3 linked regions of the Homo sapiens genome follow. The protein of the gene in region 3 interacts with the protein of the main gene of each other region in a biochemical or structural test. Each region holds a gene or a part of one and is shown on either strand. Other genes may lie near its edges.

Region 1 (3,649 bases), on a different chromosome or scaffold from region 3:
ACAAATCAGTGTGTGACCTTAAAAGGTTAAAAACTCTATGGACTTTAGTTTCTCCCATTTGTAAAATTTAGCACTCCAAATATGATATGGTATATAAAAAAGTGTTAAATTATAGACAAGTGGCCTAAAAATGTTAGTGTATATTTTAAAGTAATTGCCTCAAGGTAATAACCTTATAAAACTAGTAGTATCTAGCATGTTATCTCATTAAAAAATATATCTATATACAAAATATGGCCATAAAATTATAATTGGAGAAAAAGTTAAATTTCATATTTGAGTCCTAACTGCATGCAAATTGTCATGAGCTGTGGCAGTGTGCGGAAATGGAAATAAGTCCCTGGTAATTTTTATCACAGTGAGCCAAGATACTACTACACTGCCATAAGACAGGAAAATGTGGTGCACAAATATGAATACGAATCTATTCATTCTTTCTATTTATGTTTGTTCAGGTAGACTAGAAATTTATAATTTACTTATAACTTCCAACAAATTAACTTTTCCACAAGGGAATTTTTAGAGATACTACTAGATTTGCATCCCACTAATCAATAACATGGGTAGTGGCAGGTCACAGTGAAGCAGTATAGCAACTGAAAGAAAAGGAAAAATAATCAAAAACAAATGAACCAAGATGAAAATTAAATAATGGTAGTAATAATGATGATGATAATGATGAACTCTAAAATGACAAAACAGTTTGTAGGCAAACTAGTGTCCTTTCTGTACATCATGATGTCTCACTTGCCAGAGCACTTTCAACAGGGTAGGGTGTGTACAGCAGGGAAGAATCTTAGTTTTGTTAGAGACTTTAAACCTAAATATTAGGCTGGTTCAAGTCTCATCACAAATAAAAACATGTTAAGAATCTGCTGTGACAAATACATTATCCGAGTAGATATCTTAATGTGCACTTCCTTACGCCGAACATCAGTCACTGCTGCAGACGATTCTCGAGGTGGCCTCACTGGGGTGCACTGTCCCCCATAAGCTACGTGTGACTAACTAACACTGGCAGTGGTGATCTCACAACAGAGCATATGGCTGACTCATTGGAGGTTTTATAACAGAGGCTGTGTCCCTGGATATTCTGACTCAATATGGGTGTGGCCAGACAGGGAGGAGACAATAGGTGGGCAGGTATTTACATTTTTAAAAAGTCAGAAAGGTAGTTCAGACATCCATTCCCCAGTGAAGACCACTGACAGACTGGACCAGAGAGAAGTTTATCCCTGTCCTCCTCTCCCTTCCCACCAAGGGCCTTTCAAGCACCCATTGCTCACTATGTATACTAAGTGTCCTATATATAATATACACTTTGCATTTGATCTTCCTCATGGCCCTGTAAGGTAGATAACATTATTATCTGATATCTACCTTACACACAAGGAAACAGCAGCACATACAGGGCAAGCCACTGGCCCATAGCCACATACCTAGTTCTGGGATTTGAATCCAGCAATCTTTAAAGCTGCCTATCTTGAGAAATGTGCAGATAAAAGCTATTGCTTTTATACCACATAAGAAACAGACAATTTTTGTCTAAGACACAGGGTCTCACTCTGTCCAGGTTGGCTGGAATGCAGGGGCACAATCATAGCTCACTGCAGCCTAGAACTCCTGGACTCAGGTAATCCTCCCACCTCAGCCTCCTGACTAGCTGGGAGTATAGGCACTGCCACCACACCTGGCTAGCTTTTTTTATTTTTACAAATTTTTGTAGAGGTGGAGTCTCAATATGTTGCCCAGGCTGGTCTGGAACTTCTGGCCTCAGCTTCTCAAAGTGCTGGGATTATATATGTAGAGAGATCAATTTTATGTGCCATATTTAACAAATGCAGGGAAAACTTTTCTTAAAGCAGTCCTCATTCTGTTCTCCTAGGAAAAACAGCAATGGCTTGCCACAGGTTGTCTAAAAATGCCTCATGGTACACCTCAAAGTCCAAATTATCCTGTCTGGGACCAAAAATTGTCTTGGTGGCTTAATGCTATAAATTCCTCAGCCTACAAAAAACCCATTAAACCGGCTAAAGGAAACTTATTTCCCCTTTCTATTTTCCCTCATCCCCCACCTTCTTAAATATAATGACTCAATTTTTCAGTCATGCAAAATATAGTAATAGAACCTAACTGGAACATTATGAATGTTAACACAGAATTATCAATATGGCTTGTGTGATATGACTGAGCATGTTTATACTGACACTGCTTCATTTTATTAACCACTCTGCTATCATAAACACGCTGGCTGATGAATATTTGCATTTTAAGTGATTTTTCATCAGTAAAAAATTTTATTCCTTAAAAAAAATTTATAAGTTGTAATCTCTGTATATAGAGTTGGCAGAAGACTTTGCCAAGAGCACATTCATTGTTTTTTGTGCAACTAAATCAACATAGATAAAACACATTTTTCAAAAATATTGTTCACGTGCAAAATTTGTACTTAAAATGCAATCCATCAAAATAGCCTGTCATCAAACCACTGCTCAGAAACAGACAAGGGTAAGTTTGAGCTTTAAAGGGATAATGAACTAACAACACCTAACATATCTACTTTAGAAGAATATTCTGGTATAAAAACACATTAAATACCTTTAACTACCAACTCTGCATAGTTTGATATTCCAACACCTCCTTCAGTGCGAATCATGCAGCGGTACTTTCCAGCATCTCGTTTGGTGGTATTCACAACATTAAATGAAGCAATGAAGCGTCGGGAGCTGGTCACCTTGATTTCCTTCAGAGGAGCATCTCGCACATCAATGCCCTGTATCAAGTGGGGTGGGGAGGACAAAAAGAAGCAATATAAGCTGTCAGAGCAAAACAGTCAGACACCCAATGGTATATTATCCATGCTGTTTTCATGCAGACCTTGGTGCAGTTGCTTATTACCCATGGGCAGTTGTACCAGGAGAATAGCTGAGCAGGAAACTAAAATTCTGCCATGATCAACACCTTAAAGACTGAGCGATGCAAAATTAAGTGTGAAGACATTTTTTGTTTTTGCCTCTTCAAAATATTATGTTAATTAGTGCAACAGGGGAGTAAAAATACAGAAAACTTGTTACCTTGTTTTCAAACTATCCACATTTGGTCTTATAGCACTTTCTCTTATTTGTATGCTTGACTAGGAAATAAAAGTAGCTCACCCACTATCCTATTACTGACCTCATTTTATAAATGAAGTAATAAACACTGTATTAAGAATAACATTCAACTATAAGTTAGGTTTTAGAGTACTCCCTATTGAACAGGACTAAAAGAATAGTTCAACCCTTTTGACGTTCTTCCTGGATATACAAAACCAAACAGAATTAGGTGCCTAGTAACTATTAAATGACATTCATACGTAACAAGAGAGGTTCCTCTCTACATCCCATATCCCCAGGACCACATAAACAAAGTTCCACAGCTGGGGCAGTTTGGTCTTTTATTATCCCCATATATGGTCTTTTATTATCCCCATATATTAAGTAACCCTTTTAGTTATGCACACTTGGAAATCCATTCTATGCTTCCAATAGTTTAAAGCCTCAAACCTCGTGGCTTCAAAAGCAGGTTAGAGATTTAAAGTCTCAAAAGCAGGTTAGAGATTTTAGTTCTCTCTCTTGTATGTGCTCTTGCTCTTGTGCTCTCTCTTCTC
Region 2 (4,123 bases), on a different chromosome or scaffold from region 3:
CTCTCTCTTCCCCCATCCCAAATCATGTTTTGCCACATTGTTAAGAGGCTGTTTCTAAAGGTTTTTTGTTTGTTTGATTTTTACTATCATTCCTTCCAAAAACCGTCGTGGCTCAAGAAATATGTCTTAGAGTAAGGAAAAAGGAAATTGCCTTTTGATGACAAGCTTCCGCCCCGACTTTTGGACACTGAGACCAACATGTTACAGCAAAACATATTAGCCCAACTATGTTATGGATGTAACCTTATAAATTGAAATTGCTTTCAAGATTGGGAATTTTCAGATCAAAAGAACATGGAAAACACACTACTTAGTTTTAAAATGTATTTGTCCAAACTTGCCAAAAGTTTTAAATAAAATACTTTAAAGGAAATCAAGTTATTGTCATATTTATACTAGATTTGAAATACTAACAATTTCTGAATTTAGGAATAAAATAAGATAAGTCCATTTTTAAGTCAACATTTACAGTATTCTTGTTTTGACAAATACAGATGTTCATGAGGAACCCTGGGGAAAAAAAATCTAATTTAGATGGTCTAGTTGCCGTTAAACTGGAAAGGAGAGGACAGATATATACAGAAAATCCCCATTTCTACAAATGTGTGAGGCTTAGAATGCACCAGTTCTCCAATACAAGCTAATCCCATTCGTTTAAGGAGCCCCTGGCACAAAGGCACCCACTTGCTAAATATATGCTATATCGCAGGTTTGCAGAAACCACCCTGCCCAGGTAGACCCAAAAGAACCACAGATTTCTTCCCAAACCATATTCCAGGATTTCTTTTCTTTCTCCTGCATTCTAAAGAGCAAACAAAGAAAAGGTGCTCGCTCCTCACACTTCTCTAAATGTTTTAACAAAAGGCTGCTGAATAAACACATTACTCATTTAAAAATTGAAAAGAAGTTCTATTCCTGATATGAAAGCAACCAGATTTGCATTTTAATAGTTGTGGGCGAGCGCCACCTGGCGGGAGCATCCGGAACGGGCGGCGTTCAGCACTGGACAGCTTCCCGAGCCGGTACGGGTTTTACCGCTTGCTACCCAAGAACGATTCGAGACCCGTGATGGAATATTTTTGATCCTGTTTCTGCCGCGGGAACGTGAGTGGTATTAATGTGTGGTTGGCCGGTCATGCCTTAGAGGATATAAAATCTGAGTCACGAATCATGCCTGGATCCCCAGGACTGCCCCGGGCATCCTCCCTAGTACCCCTCCCTCCCCTAGCACACCTAACACACCCCCCAAAATGAGGAAAACAAGAATTGTGCACCATCTTTAGAATGGTGCTGTAGCTGTCCCTCTTCTCTCACTTGCTAATCCAACCTTTCAGCTTCACACACCTCAAAAGGAGTGTCTTCGTCACCCAACTTCCCAGCCAGGGAAACAGGCTGTCCCTTCACAGAAGTCGCCTATTCCGCTTCCATTTTAGTACCAAGCAAGGAAGGCTCTAAAGCATTTCCAACGGAATGTCCTTCCAGCGGCCCTTAACCTCAGACGCAGCTTGTGCAAAGACGCTGTACCTCCCCACAGGTTCGTTCTTTTGCTCTTTCTTTCTTCCTTTCCTTCTTTCGGTGAAATAATAAATGGGCACAGCTGTTGCTTAGCGATCCGAAACCAGCCTGTTCCTGCGTCCCACGGGCTGATCTCAGCCTGTCCCCGCAATCCCAGCCACCTCAGGCCGGCGTGGTTACACCAAAAGCAATCGGTGCTAAGAAACTTTAAGGTGATTTTGAACTTGGAAGTACACCTGCAGCACTCCCTTCTCTTCCCTCCGCCGCTACTCTTGGGGGGGGGGGGGCTCGGGGGTGGAAGCTGCCTGCGGTGGGGCTTGGTGATGTGTAAGACCCTGGACTGTGGTGCCCTCCAGCACCCGCCAACGTGCCTTTAGGAGCACGGCAGGCACCACCCCCCCGCCCCCGCTCCCCCTACTCTGGGGAACTACCTCTGCTCACCGCCTTCCCGTGGCCAAACCCAAATATGAGTTCCCCGAACTTTTCAGGAGCGGACGCGCTCACGGGTCAAATCCACTCCCCTCCAAGGGCCTTAACACGGGCGCCCAGCTACCTCGGAGAAAAGCCAGCGGGTAGGGCGGAGGTATTGCTCTCGGTCATCAACGCAAACATCCCCTCGGGTGCCTACAGCGGCCTGCTTAGGGGAGCAGCGTGTTCAGAGCAAATGGAGAGCTTCCTGTATCTCCGAGGAAAAAAGAAAAGCCGCCGCCCCGGCAGCCTCGGCCTGCTGGGGACCTGTCCTCCCCACTAAAAGCGCGCGCTGCCCGAGGAGCTGCCCGGGAGAGAACGCTCCACCCCGGGCGTCGGTGCCGCTCCTCGTCTCGCCGCCCCAAACACTCAAGTGGCAGATTCCGACAAGTGGGAGGCAGCAAGTGGAAATATTCGCAACAACCGCGGAAAGTTACTCCAGCCCGGGGGGCCGGCAGGAAACTGAAGCGGGGAACTTCGCCAAACGCGGGCTGCCGAGGGACGCGAGGGGCCGGGCTCGCTGGCCGGGGCGCGCGGGGACACTGCTTCCCGCGCCTGCAAGCTGAGACCCGGGTTCCGGCCATGGGGACCCGCGCCCCCGCGAGCCCACACAACTTTCTCCTCCGAGGGCCCCGCGGCTGGGGGCCCGCGCGCATCCAGGAGGGAGCGGGGAGCCCAGGGGAGCCGGGCGGGCGCACTCACCTGCGGCGCTCTGAGCCCGGGCGCCGGGCAGTGGCGGCAGCTGCAGCCTCAGGAGCAGGCTGAGGGCGAGCGCGGCGAGGCTCGCCATCCGGGCGGCGGCGGGCAGCTCAGCCCCTTCCCGCGGGGGCCGGGGCCGGGACTGGGGCGGGCGCGGGGTGGCCCCGCATCGCCGGCGCGGCCGCTGGCTGTGCGCGCGGCTGGCTCCGCTCGGGCTCCCGGAGCCGGCGCTCCTGCGTTCCAAGCCGAGGCGCGGCGCGAACTGAGGCGGGAGGCTGGGCGGGGGCGGGACGCGGGGGGCGGGGGGCGGTGTCCCCCGAGTCCTAACGCCGCCGCCGTTGCCGCCGCCGCCGCCGCCGCCGCCCGCCCGGGCGCTCCGCCTCGGCCGTGCACACACCCTCACGCGCACGCCCGCGCCTGGCACACGCCCGCGGCTGGCACACGCGGGCTCCCCCGCGCACCCTCTCCGGGGCCGACCAGCTCGGGCCGCTGGCACAGTCACGCGCGTCCACACATCACCCCCGCACCCACACGCCGGGCAGGGTCCTCGCCTCTTCGCCCCGCGCCGCGCCGCGCAGCCAAGCATCGTCTGCCCTGTGGGGGCGCAGGTACGGGGGCGGTGCGGGGAGGAGGAAGCTGCAGCAGCCGTTTGAACTCGGGGTGGGGAACAGGTGAATGGGGGTTCGGTGGCGAGAAGAGGGAGGGAGGGAGCAGCCCTCGCAACTCAAGATAAGGGGCCAGGTGAATTGCGAAAGCGGGTGGGGGCGTCTGCCCAAAGCTGGGGCAGGCGGCTGCTGGCCAGGGTCTCGGGCACACCCTGAGATGAGAATTTCATCTAAGAGCGCGCGCGCGCACACACACACAACCCACTCACACTCTTCTGGGCGCATCGCTGACCGCGCCACAATCGTCGTCCCCCTCAATTAGCCGCCCACCCCACCTTCTTCTTCACCCACATCTCTCTCTTGTCCCCACCACCACGCGGAAGGGGGCGCAGAAGGGGCATGAGGCATCCCCCCACCCCCTACAATTTTTCCCTGGCAGCCTTCCCTTTCCTTTTCTAGGGAGACAGAACCTTGTAGCTTTTTCCCTTTTCTTCTCGGTCTTAACAAAGACCTGGTTGGGGCTGAAAGCCTAAAACCATAGATCAGGGTTGGAGCTGTCCCTGGCAGCCCACGGCCCACAGCCTGGCTCTCTGCTGTCCTGGGAGGCAGCTGGTACCTGAGTCTTGGCTGGGGGTCTGAGATGTAAAAGCCAGGGGCAGGGATACCCAGAAATGCTTAAGGGATTCACACTTTGTGAACACTTTGCTACCTGGCCAAAGCCCTCCTTCTTCTGTGTCAGCACAGCCCCCCACCCCCATCCTTGTTGGGGTACCAGGGACTGGACTGGGGAGACTGTAAGTGAATTGTGAAAATCAAGCATGGCAGGGTTTCCAAAA
Region 3 (3,649 bases):
ATTATCCATGGACCTAAAAAACAAAGCTCAGCCTGTCTTACCTGGGCAAGTTGCCTAATGGTTCATGTGCCTTTATTTCGTAATCTGTAAAATGGGCAAAATTACCCCCGTCCTGGCTATCCTACAGAGCAGTTGTTACTGTATATGTGCATAAATAAGAATAAGAGGCATAAAAATGTACATCATGTGACAGTGCTTTGTATACAGAATGAGGCAACATATGAACACACACATGTAAAAACCACAGCAAACCCGTTTTAGCCTTATAAATGCTCTGCTGAAATGTGAGGCATAATTACTGTCATTTCATCATACAGGAACGATGAAGGTCTCACAGCTGTTTGTGGCTGTCTCCCCCTCCGTGGGCCCCAACATATGGAGAATTTTCCTAGCTTTGCTTTTCAGCATCATGGGGAACAGCTGATGAGGCACAGCCAGGCTGGCAATAGTCTTCCTGGAGCAAACTTGGCAGATCCCTTGAGGCCCCAGTGGTAGTGGGAGTGGGAGGAAGCCTACCTCTTCTCCCTCCTCCCATTCCCCTCCAAGGTTCTTAGATGCAAGTGTAGTCCATAGTCCTCTGGACCAACTCCCCCAAAGGGACATTCTCCCTGCAGGGAATCCACAGTCTTTTGTGGGAAGAGCAGTAGGCACAGTCCCATCTTATGTGACCTCATTTAAGGTCACAGTATTCACTGGAATCTCTGAAAACTCTGCCGAGTCGAGACTGGTGGACACCCTGCTACTAGGGTGACCCTCCCGCAGTCGTGGGGTATGAGAGAGGATAGGACCCCTGCGTTGGGGGTGGGAGAGGGAGATTCAGGTGATCACCTTGGGTAAAAGTCTTGCAGGGTTGGAAGGCATCTTTAAGGCTGTGGAATCTGTCCCCTAATCAGAGGCTGACTCCCTCTGCAGCTTTCCCACCCAGTGTCTTTTTCTGTCTTCACTAGCACTTCCTGCAACAGGGACTCCTTCCTTGCAAGGCAGCCCATTCCTGGCCACACAGCTCTGACTATTACAGAGCTCATCCTTAGAATGAGTCAAACCCTGTTGTGGTCTTGGACCTTCTACTCACTGGTCCTGATGTCACCGCTTGGACCACATAGAGCAAGGCAAAGCCCTCTTCCACTTGACAGCCCTGCGACTGTGATAGGCAGATGTCCTGCCCATCTGAGGCCCCTGCTCTGGACACGCAGCATCCCTAGTTGCTCTGATACACCCTCGAATGACATCGTTTCGGTGCTTCATGGTGCTCCTGAGTTCCACAATGGCTAGTTTTCTGACAGCAGGGTGGCCAGAACTGAGAGAACACTGGAGACAGCACTGTAGCCCCAGCTGGGATGCTGGTGAGCTGTGTCCCTGGGGTAGATGACTCCACCTCTCTAGGCCTTGTGAATGGAGGAGATTGGAAAAAATAATCTCTTAAGTCCCTCAAGCATTAACAATCTAAATCTAGGATTCTCTGGGGACAACTGTGCTGTCTGAGCTGACTCCCTGGAAAGAAATTTTGGCCATAAGGGACCTTCCTTTGACAGGCCCTGTCTAGAAAGGGCTGGAAGATTAAAGAGTCTGTCCGACAGTCAGCTGTTGCTCATAACTTCTCCTGGAGCTGATGGCACAGGGCCTTGGAGGTTGAAGGATAGCTGCGTCTCCACTGGACCTCGCAGGTTTCTGGTTGCTGGTCACAGAAACCATGTTTGTGCTAAGAATCTTAAAAACAAACAGCAAAACCACCCATGTTTCTGATGGACACAGGGAGGACACTTGAGCTGTGCTTTGCATGGGGATTGGAAATGGGGAGCGTTTTTTGGTCATCTCAATGACTAGGGTGGGGAGCTGCTGGCGTTTAGTTGGGGGAGGGATGGAATGTCTAATGACAGGGAGATTCCCAGGTAATTCTGAATTATCATACCCCAATTGATCTCTTTTGTCAGAAAATCCCCCCACAGTGTGCTCACACCATGGGGATGGTCTGAATCTAGCCTGTCATGTGCCTGCTGAGCCACACATCCTGGCATAAAGATGTGAAATGCAGCTCTGCCACTGCGAACTGTGCAACACCAAGAAATTATTTGACCTAAGAGCCTGTCTTCTTATCTGTAAAATGGAGTCTTGAGTAGTAGCTACATCCAAGGGCTGTTGTAAGAATTACATGTGCAATAATGCAAGAAAAAGGCTTCCCACCATGCCTGGCACAAAACAAATGCTACAAAGAAATGATGGGGCTGGGCATGGTGGCTCATGCCTGTAATCCCAGCAGTTTGGGAGGCCGAGGCAGGCGGATCACTTGAGGTCAGGAGTTCGAGACCAGCTTGGCCAACATGGCGAAACCCCATCTCTACTAAAAATACAAAAATTAGCCAGGCGTGGTGGTGCACGCCTGTAATCCCAGCTACTCAGGAGACTGAGGCAGGAGAATCGCTCAAACCTGGGAGGTGGAGGTTGCAGTGAGCCAAGATGGTGCCACTGCACTCCAGCCTGGGTGACAGAGCCAGACTCCGTCTCAAAACAACAACAACAACAACAAAAACAAAAACAAAACAACAACAACAAAACAAACCAAAAAAACCAAAAGATGGCACTGTGATGGGGAAGGTAGTGGTGGAGCAGGTGTGCCAGATTGGGTGGACATCACAGGCAGAGAGCATGGGACTTGGCCCGCTGCTTCCTCTTGTCCAAGGACCATACCAGCTCAGGCTGCCTGGTACATGCTCTGATGCTGTCTGGGAAACTCAACCCTCTCCTTGCCAGTGTCTGGGCTCAGACAGTTTCCAAGATGCAACATAAAGGGTTTTTAGTGAAGCAGCAAGACACCGTCTGGCTGGTCCTCCTCTGGGTTTTGAATGGACTTGGTGGGTGAGCCGGTGGGAGGATCACCCTACTGGTTGATCCTCTCTAGAACCAATTTTTCCAACTCTGGGATGAGAACAATCAGAGTGAGGGCACATAACACATCTCCCATGAAAACCTTTGTGTGGAAATACAGTGAAGTAATCAACCTTGCAAATCAATCCAAGAAACCTCTCCAGCTCACATCTGCATGAAGAACTCTGCGTAAGGCCTGGGAATTAGCAAAAGCTGTGTGGCTACTGCAATGCTCTGTTGCTATTGATTCTACCACTGTTGTTTTCTTATCTTGATCTCCAAATTAAGTTAATTAATGTGGTGGTAGGGTCTTGTCAGCCAAGCAGATGACAATTGTCTGTCGTTGGGAAAGGAAGTATAGAAGTCCAGGATGGCAAATCTACTTTTCCAAAGGACTGTTACTCTCAGTATAGACAGAGGACACCAGTCTCAGAAATAGAATTTCTGGCCCTATGACAGACTTGGTGAATCTGTTATCTAAGGCTCTGCATTTTTAACAAGCTCTCCAGGTGATTCTTATGCATACTGATGTTTGAGAACCACGGTTTTAGGTTATTATTATTATCATCAGAGGTGAGCAGTAAATATTTGTTGCACAAGGATTCACTTTTCCCACAAATACTTACTGCTTGCCTGCTATAATGATAATGCTTGTAACAACAGCCACAAATACTTAGGTGGTGCCAGGCACTTACATAAAGCAGAAACTGTCCCAAGCTCTTCATATATATTAACTCGTCCAACCATAACAACCCTTGAGGTAGACATTGTCACCACCTTTGTATAG

What was found.
Region 1: the proteins of DSCAML1 (region 3) and PTPRM interact in a biophysical measurement, tested with the Homo sapiens proteins (one large-scale study listed by IntAct).
Region 2: the proteins of DSCAML1 (region 3) and PTPRT interact in a biophysical measurement, tested with the Homo sapiens proteins (one large-scale study listed by IntAct).

Annotation. Positions count from the first base shown.
Region 1 is NC_000018.10:7,948,305-7,951,953, reverse strand, and holds part of PTPRM (receptor-type tyrosine-protein phosphatase mu isoform 1 precursor), read right to left. Parts: intron 2,774-3,649; coding exon 2,599-2,773; intron 1-2,598. UniProt on the Homo sapiens protein: Receptor protein-tyrosine phosphatase that mediates homotypic cell-cell interactions and plays a role in adipogenic differentiation via modulation of p120 catenin/CTNND1 phosphorylation.
Region 2 is NC_000020.11:43,186,961-43,191,083, forward strand, and holds the start of PTPRT (receptor-type tyrosine-protein phosphatase T isoform 2 precursor), read right to left. Parts: upstream 2,947-4,123; 5' UTR 2,774-2,946; coding exon 2,686-2,773; intron 1-2,685. UniProt on the Homo sapiens protein: May be involved in both signal transduction and cellular adhesion in the CNS.
Region 3 is NC_000011.10:117,787,198-117,790,846, reverse strand, and holds part of DSCAML1 (cell adhesion molecule DSCAML1 isoform 1 precursor), read left to right. Parts: intron 1-3,649. UniProt on the Homo sapiens protein: Cell adhesion molecule that plays a role in neuronal self-avoidance. Promotes repulsion between specific neuronal processes of either the same cell or the same subtype of cells.